Regions from separate parts of the Homo sapiens genome. Here region 1 is linked to region 2. The links come from fine-mapping of genetic effects on gene expression. A gene starts in region 2. The other region holds a variant in brackets. All regions are shown on one strand. Distances are between the middles of the regions. Region 1 overlaps SIRT5 (sirtuin 5). Region 2 holds the start of SIRT5 (sirtuin 5).

Region 1 (2,913 bases), 31 kb after region 2:
AAGCGTAGTAATACCGGAGCTAGGCAGCTCAAGCCTCCTGTCTGTTTGAAAGACCATCAGAAAACTCGAAGAGTGGGACAGGATAAACTTTGTGAAGCAGGACCTGAGCTATGTCCCCAGTTTGGTTCTTCTAATGTGGTTTCTTTTCAGTCATTTGATCTCCATCTCATCTCTAATTATTATAAAGAATTAAAACAAGTCATCATTGTAGAAAAGCAAGAAAATGCAGATAGAGAAAAAGAAGAAAATAAAACTGGAGTATTTCCACAACCCAAGTTTAGAGTTGGCCCCCACCTCCCATGCCATGGACTGAGCAGCAGGGGCCCAGCATCCCTTGGATATGGTGGCTGTGTCTTCATGTGAAAGAAACTGAACTTGGTGGTTTTTCCTGCCAGTTCAGGAGAGATTCTTGGCATGTAATATATATCACTGCTCAAGTCAAGCCTCCTAAAACCACAGACCTGTTTCAGCTGCTACTTCAGCCAAAATTCTTCAGCTTCATATTGTCTTGAAAACCTATGATTGTCTCTAACAAACAGGCTACTTGCTAGTTAGAAATTCTTATCAATTTGGCAAGCTACTTATCAACCAGACTGACCACAAGAACTGTCATCTCATCAATGAAGGAGTAACTGATCAATGAAGCCAGCAATGCTTTTTTCTTGGCATCATCAAAGCTGACATTTAGAAGAGATGCTGGTGATAGTCATCTCATCCTACTCAATTTTTCAAAGGCAGAAACCAACCCTGGAGCAATTGAGAGGACTGTTTAAACACAGAGCTTAACAATGGCAGAATTGTATATCTCGTGCTTAACAGATTTTGGTTGAACTTTACCCTAGGTCAGGGGTCAGCAAACTACTGCCTGTGGGCCAAATTTGCCCACCACCTGTATCTGTAAATAAGGTTTCATTGGAACACAGCTGTGGCCATATGTTTGTATATTGTGTGTGGCTGCTTTTGCATTAGGATGACAGAGGTGAATAGTTGCAACAGAGACTGGCTGGTCTGCAAAGCCTAAAATATGTCCTGTGTGGCCCTTTACAGAAAAAGTTTTCTAACCCCTGCTCTAGGTTACGGAGAAAAAAAAAATGGAATAATGTTCTCTGCTACTTTTAACCTGATTTTCTTTGTTACCTAAATAGGCAGCTAGAATGCTGCCTATATTTTAATAAGGATTTGGATCTCACAAGACACCTTAGGCCTTACACAAGTTGTTCAGATTCTTTGCCCCAGTTCTAATCTAGTGACAAAGGCATAGAATTCTCCTCCCACAGGAATGTATTTCTATTTTCAAGGTGTTAATTAGTTCCAG[T/A]TTTGGTTTTGTCGTTTTCCCCATGTCCGATGCTTATATTGGATGATTTCTGATAAACCCTGACTATTCCAATAAACCCTAGGCATTTTTGAATTTAAACCTCAGTGTTTTGACTGTTACTCAACCCCAGGGGGCCTTGGCTTGTAGGATTTGTACATTCGCTGAGGCAAAAATGGGACTGTCGCTGCAGGGAGCTGGTGGCCAGGGCCTTCAAAGCACCTTTGGCCCACTGTGCCCTGCAGCCACTATGTTGTGCCCTGTTGATCTTTAAATTTCTCTAAATGTTGGAATTTAATTAAAGTCCACAAATATTTGTAAGTATCCACTATGTATCAGACACTTTTCTAAGTGCTTAAGATAGGATATATCAGTAAACAAAACAAATATCTACCAAGGAAAGATTATATTCTAGTGGTTGAGGCAGACAGGTAAGCAGTGAACATAAGGTACACATTCTACAGCACGTGAGCAGGTGCTAAGAGACTGCACAAAGTAAAGATGCACAAACCTCATTAAGAAGAGATTGGAGCAAAGACTTGAAGGAGGTGAAGGAGGCAGCCGAAGACATAATCTGGGATAAGAGCTTTTCAGACACTGGGACCACCTGGAGCAGAGGCCCCTCAGTGTGGCTGGAGTGGAGTGAGGAAGTCCCAGGAGAGGCGAGCAGTAAAGTAATGGAGTTGGGGGCTCTGGGGAGGGAAGACACCCAAGCTACCTGCTGTTGGAGTTTAGAAGTCTAAGGAATTGTTAGGTAGAAGAGTTTTATAGATTGTTGTGGTTATATAGTTACCTATCTAGGGTGTGAAGAGGTCACTGCTTTGAAGCGATAGTTGACCGTGTGTGTTAGGGAAGTCCAGCGCTCTCCCTGGCTGTGCTGTCAAGGGCGGGTAGGGAAGCCCTCCTAGTCCATGCAGTCAGGGCTTAGTTGGTCTGTTCATTCAAAAAGCCACTGAAAACAAGACTAATAGAAAAGGACACATACATACTTTAAACATTTTGATATAAAGCATAAATCTACCTTCATTTGCTTTTTGTTTGTTTTTTGTTTTGTTTTGTTTTAAGACAGAGTCTTGCTCTGTTGCCCAGGCTGGAGTGCAGTGGCGCAATCTTGGTTTACTGGAAACTTTGCCTCCCGGGCTCAAGCAGTCCTCCCACCTAAGCCTCCCGAGTAGCTGGGATTACAGGCGTGCACCACCACACCTGGCTAATTTTTGTATTTTTAGTAGAGACGGGATTTCACCATGTTGGTCAGACAGGTCTCAAACTCCTGGCCTCAAGAGATCCACCTGCCTTAGCCTCCCGAAGTGCTGGGATTACAGGCGTGAGCCAACACACTTGGCCTGCTTTTTTTTTTTTTTTTGGAATAGAGCTAAAGGCCTTTTGTTTGAGTAGGGATCTGCTGATTGGAGCTCACCTTTCTTGTCGTATCCATAATCTTCCTCGTGTTCCCCAAATACCCCTGAAGATACGAATGACTCCAGCCCTTATTTTATAAAACAAAACAGACAACCAGGAAAATCAGATCCCAAGGCCCCCACCTAGACTTCCTGAATCAGAATTTCTAGGGGGAAGATGCCTGTTTATCTGTGTAGTTAGCA
Region 2 (2,913 bases):
CTGCCCTGGTAACACTACTACTCAACAGTTTTGTGCTTTGCGCAGTTACTTGACCTCCCTGGGCCTCGGTTTCCCCACCCATAAAGTGGGGATAACAGTACCTATTTCATCAGGTGGTGGGGACGATTTAAAATGGTTAATAATGTGCAGTTCTTAAAAGTGTCTGGCTCAGAATAAGCACCATACACGTTAGGGGGAAAAACAGCAGCCGGATGTGAGGCCCTCCCCAATTTCGTTACTCCATAAACCTCTGAGTTGCTGGTAACACCTGCAGGAATGAGAAGGGCCTCAACATGGGCTGAATTTCCAGCCAAACTGTGGGAAGTGGCTGAGATTTTAGGTAGGCAAAAAATGTTAATGTAACATTTTTGGCCCCCAAGTTCTCAGACCACTTACTTCCCTTTCTAGTCCACTGACATGCCCGCAAGCAATTCCATTCTGCCAAGTGGTGCTGGTGGCAAGCCGGAATCCAAGAAAAGGAAAGACTCCGATTTTAAGGGAACGGGGACATGCGGAGCCACGTGAGTCACTGGGTCCCAGAGCCACGGAAGGCTCTCAGCTCAGCAGTCAGAGTGCACTCGTCATTGCGTTCGAGGTTAGGTGGCCTAGCCTGGGAACCAACTCACCGTCATTTGAAATCGTTTTAGGGAAAATGACCCTAACATTTAAAATCCTCTCTCCTGAAGTTGTGTGGTCCAGCCGTTTGCTGAAGGAGGAAGCAAAGCCGGTAGTAACTCACTACATATTTGGGCAGTGGAATGAACCCTGGAAGCTGACAAAGTCGAAGCAAGTCACTGCGCCGCCCCCCACCCCCACCCCCACCCCAAATAAAAACAGAGAGACAATCCTTCAATTATAAAGAAGACCACGGCGCCCGGGTCTCCGGCAGGGGCCGCTGCAGCCGAGCAGAACGCTGAGCCGCTCCGCCCCACGGCCTCCTCTCCAGCCGGCGCGCCCGCCTCCCGCAGGTGCGTCTCTGCCTGCGCCGGGCCGGGGTCTCCGCGGCCTCTCCCGCTCGGGCTCCGGCTTCGAGGTCCCGACCAAGCACTGCTCTCGCGGGACTGCGCGCACCGCCCAGGGCCTGCCGCGGGCTCGCGAGCGGAGGTGGCACCGGTCCGCGGTGCGCATGCGCGGCCCGGCCTCTGCCCTGCGGTCCCGGGCTGGTGACTGGCTAGCGGTTGGAGGAAGGGATGTGGGGGATGGTGGGTGGGTACAGAGAGCTGGGAGGGAGGCACCCCGGGGGGCGGGGCGTGGGAGACTGTATTCGGGGGCGCGAGCTGCCCCAGGTGAGCCGTGGCTCAGGTCCGGAGCGCGGTCGGGACACAGCGCCTCTAGGAGAAAGCCTGGAAGGCGCTCCGGGGGTACCCAGAGCTCTTAGCGGGCCGGCAGCATGTGCGGGGCCCAAGGTCTTCCGGGCTCTGCGTGGGGGTCGCTGCGGCTGGAGACCAGGGAGGGGGATGGAAACGGGGTTGGAAAGTAATCCCACCCGAGCAGGTGGGCATGGGAGGCCGCTGTGCTGGGGAGCCCCGCGAGGGCTCCGAACAGAGCCTCCCTTTTCAGAAAGGTCACCCTGGTCATTGCAGCTGCCAGGGTGACCGAGGAAGGTGGCCGGGGTGGAGGCAGTGGGCGTGGAGAGGGGTCGGATTCCGGACGTAGTTTGAAGGTGGAGCCGTCAGGTTCTGCTGAGCAGCTTGGCTATGGGGCGTGCGAGAAGGGAAGGCTCAGGGCCTAGTCCCTGGGCACGAGTAGTAGCCGGGAGGATGAAGTCCCAGTGCTTCGGGGGGAGGCGGCTTGAGGACGGCTCTGGAGCTCAGGCTTGCCCGCGTGGAGTGGAAGCTGCCTCTTGGACACAGGGCGGGGAGGCCGCATGCAGTCTGGCGCGCTGGGAGGATGGGAGATCCAGAGGGGCAGGGCTGGAGGGGTAGGAGGAAAACCTGAAGAGGGTGGCGCCCGGAAGCCCGGGAAAGTGATGAACTGGGTCAGAGGCCGGGTATCAACAAATAGGAGGGTGGAGACGACCTTGAGGAAAGCAGGTGATGGAACGGGAGGGAATGGGGCCCCCTAGTGGAGACACCTGGGAGTGATGTATTGCATTTATTTAGCTCTTAGGCGTTCAAAAATTATTTATTGGGAGCCTGTACAACTTTTTGCAGTTCATTGCATTATCCTTAGCATGTATTTTGTTTTATATAAATATATATTTATATAATTATTTTTATTGACAAATTTATATATTTATAGCGTACAGTGTAATGTTTTGATATATGTATACATTGTAGAAAGATTAAATCAAGCTAATTGACATATCCATCACCTCACCTACTTATTTTTTGTGGTGAAAATCTACTCTCCTGGAAATATACAATACATCATCAACTATGGTCACCATGCTGTGCAGTAGATCACTAAAACTTACTCCTCTTACCTAACTAAAACTTTGTATCCTTTGACCAACATCCCTCCCTTCCACATCAGCCCTCTGCCAGGCCCCTGGTAACCATCATTCTACTCTGCTTCTATGAGTTCAACTTTTTTAGACCCCAAGTATATAAGTAAGATCATGTGCTGTTTGTCCTTCTGTGCCTGGCTTATTTTACTTGGCCTCATGTCCTCCAGGTTCATCCATGTTGTTGCAAATGACAGAATTGCCTTCTGTTTTAAGACTGTATAGTATTCCATTGTATATATGTGCCACATTTTCTTTATCCGGTCCTCAGTTGATGGATACTTAGTTGCTTCTATATCTTGGTTATTGTGAATAATGCTGAAAACAACACAGGAATGCAGCTATCTCTTCAACATACTGATTTCAATTCCTTTGTATATATACCCAGAAGTAGGATTTCTGGGTCATGTGGTAATTCTATTTTTAGATTTTGAGGAGCCTCCATACTGTTTTCCAAAATGGCTGTA

Evidence for each region. PIP is the estimated chance that this variant, and not a neighbour inherited with it, causes the effect.
Region 1: its variant is fine-mapped to the expression of SIRT5 in whole blood (TOPMed, PIP above 0.99).

The regions. Positions count from the first base shown.
Region 1 is chr6:13,604,326-13,607,238 of GRCh38, forward strand. All of the region lies in intron 9 of SIRT5 (sirtuin 5), which reads left to right. It overlaps LOC105374938 (a long non-coding RNA gene), which reads right to left. Exons shown (of 2, transcript XR_007059460.1): 1 at 2,106-2,913. Among named protein-coding and RNA genes, the nearest start is that of NOL7, 9.6 kb to the right of the region's middle. The variant T/A (reference allele first, on the strand shown) is at 1,316.
Region 2 is chr6:13,573,339-13,576,251 of GRCh38, forward strand. It overlaps SIRT5 (sirtuin 5), which reads left to right and starts at 1,263. Exons shown (of 10, transcript NM_012241.5): 1 at 1,263-1,406. It overlaps LOC105374937 (a long non-coding RNA gene), which reads right to left and starts at 1,096. Exons shown (of 2, transcript XR_926497.4): 1 at 627-1,096. RefSeq lists a silencer at 816-1,335 and enhancers at 1,028-1,614, 1,546-2,025, 1,615-2,200.